2 linked regions of the Homo sapiens genome follow. The protein of the gene in region 1 purifies or fractionates together with the protein of each later gene. This does not show direct contact. Each region holds a gene or a part of one and is shown in the gene's direction. Other genes may lie near its edges. The genes, in order: CACNA1H and KLHL1.

The links.
Region 2: the proteins of CACNA1H (region 1) and KLHL1 purify together in Homo sapiens (affinity purification with western blotting, with the first as the bait; one study listed by BioGRID). This does not show direct contact.

Annotation. Positions count from the first base shown.
Region 1 is NC_000016.10:1,219,068-1,222,553, forward strand, and holds the end of CACNA1H (voltage-dependent T-type calcium channel subunit alpha-1H), read left to right. Parts: coding exon 1-63; coding exon of another isoform or gene 64-241; intron 242-913; coding exon 914-1,927; 3' UTR 1,928-2,701; downstream 2,702-3,486. Other genes in the region: TPSG1 (tryptase gamma preproprotein), read right to left, coding at 2,721-3,029, 3,129-3,274.
Region 2 is NC_000013.11:69,703,081-69,706,581, reverse strand, and holds part of KLHL1 (kelch-like protein 1), read left to right. Parts: intron 1-3,501.

The DNA of each region.
Region 1 (3,486 bases):
CACGCCCTGTCCCCTCGGGGCACAGCCCGCTCCCCCAGTCTCAGCCGGCTGCTCTGCAGACAGGTAGGAGAAGCCGTTGGCCTGCAGCAGAGGCTGGCGGGGATGGGGGGCTTGCAGGGATGCCTCGTCTCATCTGAAGGACCAGCAGACGAGGACAAGGCAGGAGGAGGGTCGCACTGGGTCCTTGGGGCTCCGAAGGTTTCTGCCTGCTGCTTGGTGGATCTTGGAGCATTGGGCCCAGGTGCGTCTTCAGGCCTGTGAGCCTGTGGCTACAGAGCTCTTGGCTACAGGGACCTGAGTCTTCTTGGACCCACAGCTTCAGGCCCCACGGTGGGCAGACAGCGGTTTCTCAGGTCCCGTGGTGGGCAGACAGCAGTTTCCCAGGGCCCACGGCGGGCAGATGGCAGTTTCTCAGGCCCCATGTGGGCATGGGTCCCGTGGTGGGCAGACAGCGGCTTTTTCAGTCCTGGCTTGTGTTCAGATGTCCCAGCCTTGCCCACCTGCAGCCTCAGCTCCTCTTCCTGCCCTTTCCTACCTCTTGCTGCCCAGTACAAGACGCCTGTACCGCACAGGAGCAGTTAGGAGAGCCCCATCCTGGGGGTGCCCAGCTGGGCTGCTGATGTCCAGGGGTGGGGAGGTGGCCTCAGCCTCAGCTCTGTGCCCCTGGGGGCCATGGCATCTCTGCCCACAGAGCAGCGGGTACAGGCTTTCCCCGGGAGCCTCACAGGTCAGGAGTGAGACTAGGACGTCCACACCAGCGGCTTCCAGCCCCATCTCGAGGGTCAGGAGCCACCCAGGGGACCTGCCCAGTTTGGCCTCTCCAGTACCTGGATGGTGAGGGGTCTCCGAGCCCTGGCCACTGACAGGGCTCTCCCAGGGCCCCGCCCCTCACTTTGACTCTACGCCCCCACAGGAGGCTGTGCACACCGATTCCTTGGAAGGGAAGATTGACAGCCCTAGGGACACCCTGGATCCTGCAGAGCCTGGTGAGAAAACCCCGGTGAGGCCGGTGACCCAGGGGGGCTCCCTGCAGTCCCCACCACGCTCCCCACGGCCCGCCAGCGTCCGCACTCGTAAGCATACCTTCGGACAGCGCTGCGTCTCCAGCCGGCCGGCGGCCCCAGGCGGAGAGGAGGCCGAGGCCTCGGACCCAGCCGACGAGGAGGTCAGCCACATCACCAGCTCCGCCTGCCCCTGGCAGCCCACAGCCGAGCCCCATGGCCCCGAAGCCTCTCCGGTGGCCGGCGGCGAGCGGGACCTGCGCAGGCTCTACAGCGTGGATGCTCAGGGCTTCCTGGACAAGCCGGGCCGGGCAGACGAGCAGTGGCGGCCCTCGGCGGAGCTGGGCAGCGGGGAGCCTGGGGAGGCGAAGGCCTGGGGCCCTGAGGCCGAGCCCGCTCTGGGTGCGCGCAGAAAGAAGAAGATGAGCCCCCCCTGCATCTCGGTGGAACCCCCTGCGGAGGACGAGGGCTCTGCGCGGCCCTCCGCGGCAGAGGGCGGCAGCACCACACTGAGGCGCAGGACCCCGTCCTGTGAGGCCACGCCTCACAGGGACTCCCTGGAGCCCACAGAGGGCTCAGGCGCCGGGGGGGACCCTGCAGCCAAGGGGGAGCGCTGGGGCCAGGCCTCCTGCCGGGCTGAGCACCTGACCGTCCCCAGCTTTGCCTTTGAGCCGCTGGACCTCGGGGTCCCCAGTGGAGACCCTTTCTTGGACGGTAGCCACAGTGTGACCCCAGAATCCAGAGCTTCCTCTTCAGGGGCCATAGTGCCCCTGGAACCCCCAGAATCAGAGCCTCCCATGCCCGTCGGTGACCCCCCAGAGAAGAGGCGGGGGCTGTACCTCACAGTCCCCCAGTGTCCTCTGGAGAAACCAGGGTCCCCCTCAGCCACCCCTGCCCCAGGGGGTGGTGCAGATGACCCCGTGTAGCTCGGGGCTTGGTGCCGCCCACGGCTTTGGCCCTGGGGTCTGGGGGCCCCGCTGGGGTGGAGGCCCAGGCAGAACCCTGCATGGACCCTGACTTGGGTCCCGTCGTGAGCAGAAAGGCCCGGGGAGGATGACGGCCCAGGCCCTGGTTCTCTGCCCAGCGAAGCAGGAGTAGCTGCCGGGCCCCACGAGCCTCCGTCCGTTCTGGTTCGGGTTTCTCCGAGTTTTGCTACCAGCCGAGGCTGTGCGGGCAACTGGGTCAGCCTCCCGTCAGGAGAGAAGCCGCGTCTGTGGGACGAAGACCGGGCACCCGCCAGAGAGGGGAAGGTACCAGGTTGCGTCCTTTCAGGCCCCGCGTTGTTACAGGACACTCGCTGGGGGCCCTGTGCCCTTGCCGGCGGCAGGTTGCAGCCACCGCGGCCCAATGTCACCTTCACTCACAGTCTGAGTTCTTGTCCGCCTGTCACGCCCTCACCACCCTCCCCTTCCAGCCACCACCCTTTCCGTTCCGCTCGGGCCTTCCCAGAAGCGTCCTGTGACTCTGGGAGAGGTGACACCTCACTAAGGGGCCGACCCCATGGAGTAACGCGCCCGGCCCCGATGCGAATCAGGCCTCCCCTACATCTGGGGGCGTTGGCCGCGAGATTCCCATTGACACCTTTGTTTCGTGTGCTTTTAAATTCAGGTTAAATGTTGCAATAATCTGATGCAGAAGACTCAGCTTCTCAAGGGAGAGGGAGGGGGCGGAGCGGAATAAATAGTAACTTATTTAAGAAATGCACTTGGATTCCTGCCATCAGTCAGGGGCGGGGAAGGGAGTACCATCCGCAGATGGGTGCAGCAGGCACTTGGCCAGCAGGACACAGGAGACTAGCAGAAGGAAGAGGCCGGGGAGGAAGAAGCCAGCCAGGAGGGGGAGCCTGGGGTACCCAGACTCTGAGCCCCCTGATGCTGTGATGTGGCGGCGGATCCAGTTCACGTAGGCAGGGACACGAGTGTAGACTCCCGGCCTGTTGGGGCGGCCGCAGCCCTCACCCCAGCTCACAGTGCCAGCCTGCACCCAGGCACCGTTCACCTGGCAGACCAGAGGCCCCCCGGAGTCGTCCTGAGGACAGAGAAGGCGAGCATTGGGAGCCGAGAAGATGGGGAGCCCCTCCCTGGGCTTCAGCCGCCCCCATCCTCTGTCACGGCCTGGCAGGCTCACCTGGCAGGCATCCCCGGGGCCCCGGGCACACAGCATGTCGGGCTGAAGGATGCTGCCCCCGGGGCCGGGATAGTCCCGGCGGCAGGTCTCTGTGTCCACCACGGAGACTTTCACCTCCCGCAGGCTGTACGGGGGTGGCAGAGGCTCTGGGGTGGGGGGAACAGGCTTCAGAGAAGGTTGGGGCACCAGGCCCTGCACTGGGGGGATGGGAGACCTTGCCAGACACAAGTCCCATGCCACCACGACCCTCGTCACGGCACGTGGGTTGTGATCTGACGTTTGGCTGCTGCTTTGGATCCACACGACAGGCTTTGAAAAGGGACAGCCGATAGGGGCGGCCTTGGCTGGGTGTGGAAGC
Region 2 (3,501 bases), on another chromosome or scaffold:
TGCCTCAGTGGGTGGAAGGATCTGATTTTGGTCAAAGAAATTGACTACAATTTATCTAAAGAACTTGAACACCTGATTAAAGTACATTTGTTTTAAAGATATTTACTTTTAATGAAACATGATTTCCTTGATTTTGCAAGTTTTGATGGTATGCATTCAGCAACAATATTTTTTAGTCAGACTAACTTCGGAGTACAAAACCAAATTCCTAATGGCTAGACTAAGGTATCTGCATTATGAATTTCTTCTCCTCTAAAGGAAAACTCTTGACTTCACCAAAAATAGGTACATTTAGCCAAGTAAGTAAAAAGAAGGAGTAGAGAAAAGAAGGGGAAATATCAAGAGATCTAAGTCTTGTTATTTTCTACATTTTAATTGCTAGAGAAGAAGCATTTCTTATTCAGAGAGCACTGTATGTAAAAAAAAAATAAAAGCAAGTAATGATTGCTTTTCACATTATTGCACTAAAATTTCGAAGGATATATTTTGACTGTACCTTTCTGAGTCCCTAGTGTTTCCAAAGCAAACCCTGCATGCATTAATTAATGATTGCTGACTTGCTAAGGAAATGTACTAGTTAAATGGTGTGTATTTTAAATGTTCCACTTAAAAGAACATTAAATAAAGGAAGTTTATGTTTATATAAATGATGTAATATAATATCTGAATACATATTTATAATAAAGAGACATTATGCTTATCATCCTCTAAAATTGAAATCAAAACAATATATGTAGTAGGTAGTAATAGGTAAAAGACTCCTAAAGATCATTTTCCTTCATCTGTATTTTATTATACTTTTTTGGATCATATAGTATTTTACAAACAGCAAAGTGGCATTTAAAATATTTTATAACAACTTTATTTTAATACAGTAAACATTAAATTTAAAACTGTTAAGTTACTTTAAGATTTTGCTTCTGTATCTTCTCATTATTTATATTTTTAAGACTCTCAAGGGATGAGCAGCCAACCCACACAAAATCCCTTTAAAAATTTTCAGGATTCTAGCCTACTTGAAAAGTTTTCCATATTTGCTAAATTCCTGTCACTTTCACTCCATATGTCCTGTAAGTGGACTAAATTGGTTATTCCATATAATATTAGCAGCCACAAATGGCTGATTATTAAATAAGCAAACTATATTAAAATATCCAAATATGTGAATATTTGGAAAAAAACTCAGTTTAGCTTGAGTTGGAAATAGATTAGGAATCGATTAACAGTTTTGTGCTTTTGTTTTACAGAGAATGCATACACACACCATATGTATAGATACACGTGTGTATCTATGTATGTTTTAAATAAATTTGACTTTTGTCATTGAACACCGAGCTTATTTTTTGTGTTTGATTTGAAAAAAATAATGCACGTGCTTCAAGACATAAAGAGAACTTTATTCCATTTCTCCTAGCCTAAGTAAAATTGCCCTTTAATAATGTATTATCTTGGTATACTGCCATAGTACTATCATGCTGCATTCATCTACAGGTCATAAGGAATCAAAGACAATGTGTCATTTATTAACCTGTCTCTAAAGACTAGTATAGTTTCTGGCTGGGAGTAGGAGGTAATATGAATGTATCTCAAATAAATTGAGAACTATTGTGCAACTAAGTGTACTTTTTGTGTATGCATTTCATTTATTTGTAGACAATAGATATATAAGATATATTGATAATGATATATTGAGAATTTTGTTACAGAGAAGCCTGGTGAAATATCTACATTCAGCGTTACTTTTATTTCATTGGTTCTGTGGCCAACCTTTTTAGCTTATCATATTACTCATGCTGAAAGGTACAACCCCTGGAGGGAGAACAAAGGCAGATTTTTAAAAATGTATATTAAATAAATCTGGACCAAGAGAAAAGAAGGAAAACTTTTCTTAAACATTGAAAATGTACTTATGTGGAAAAATACCAAATGTTTAAAATAGCATGATTAATTATTTGGTAAGAGAATAGCACTATGATAGAACTTAAGTGCACTGGGCAGAGAAATCTTCTTTCAGGAAATATGTGGAATGAGGCCTGACAAATGAGTAATAGCTAACCAGATGAAAATATGTGGAGTGCTTTGGCTTAAGGAACATCATTGGTAAGAGCCAGAGGAAGAACACGTGGTATGTCTCACTGAGCAAGAAACAGAATTGTTAAGTTTTGAGAGATAGATGTGGTTTACATTATGTAACCTGAGCTATGTGGAAGACTGAATAAATGGATAGAATTAAACTTGTTGGAGAGATATTTAGAGGGCTTGCTGATTCAGATTTAGAGTTGAGTAAGGTAAAAAGAAGGGTCAAGGATTCTATCTTGAACAACTGGATGGAGAGGGGTGTCATTCACTGACATAAGAAACACAAGGGGAATATCACATTTTGTTTTTTGAAAAAACAGAAAGGATTCATTTTCACATGCACACATACACACATGCATCTATAGAGATAGAGGTATAAATGTAGATGAAGATATAAAGTTAAGCTACTCACTCTATATGTAGTCCAGTACACAGTACTGAGTATTGAATGGACATCAGGGAGCCTTTGGGAAAGTTGCCAAAAATACAATTACCCAATATAATCCCATTTCCATTTAGTGATAGGGCTTGTGAACATATACAGTCATGCGTTCCTTAAAAATGAAATACAATCTGAGAAATTCATCCTTAGGCAATTTCATCATTGTGCACGTATTACAAAGTATACTTAGACCAACCCAGATGGTATGGCCTACTACACACTGAGGCTGTATGATATAACCTATTGCTCCTAGGTTACAAAGCTATATAAGTATGTTACCGTAATGAGTATTCTAGGTAATTGCAACAGAATGGTGTTTGTTTGTGTATCGAACATATCTAAACATAGTAAAGGTACTGTAGAAATATGGTATAAAAGATAAAAAGTGGTACACACCTCTTTTATTTAACCTGAATGAAGCTTGCAGGACTAGAAATTGCCCTGGGTGAGTCAGTGACAGAGTCATGAGTGAAAATGAGGGGCTTGGACATTACTATATGCTACTGCAGACTTAAAAAACTCTCTACACTTAGGCTACACTAAACTTATTTTAAAATATTTTTCTTTCTTTAATAATAAATTAACCTTAGCTTACTGTAATTTTTTTTTTTACTTTTTAAACTCTTAAATTTTTAAAAACTTTTTGACTCTTTTATAGTAATAGTTACATTAAAGCACAAACACATTGTCCAGCTGTATAATTTTTTTTCTTTATATCCTTATTCTATGAGCTTTTTTCCATTTTCAAAAAAGCGGTACAACAGGTTTGTTTACACCAGTTTCACCACAGACATTTGAGTAATGCGTTGTGCTTTCATGTTAAGAGGGCTATGACATTACCAGACGATGGAATTTTTCAGCTCCATTATAATCTTATGGGACCACCATTGTATATGTGGTTCATCCATGACCTGAACCTCAAGGATGAAAATACAGCTATGCAGTGCATGACTGTATTTTGTAAATGCTTCTTAAATGAC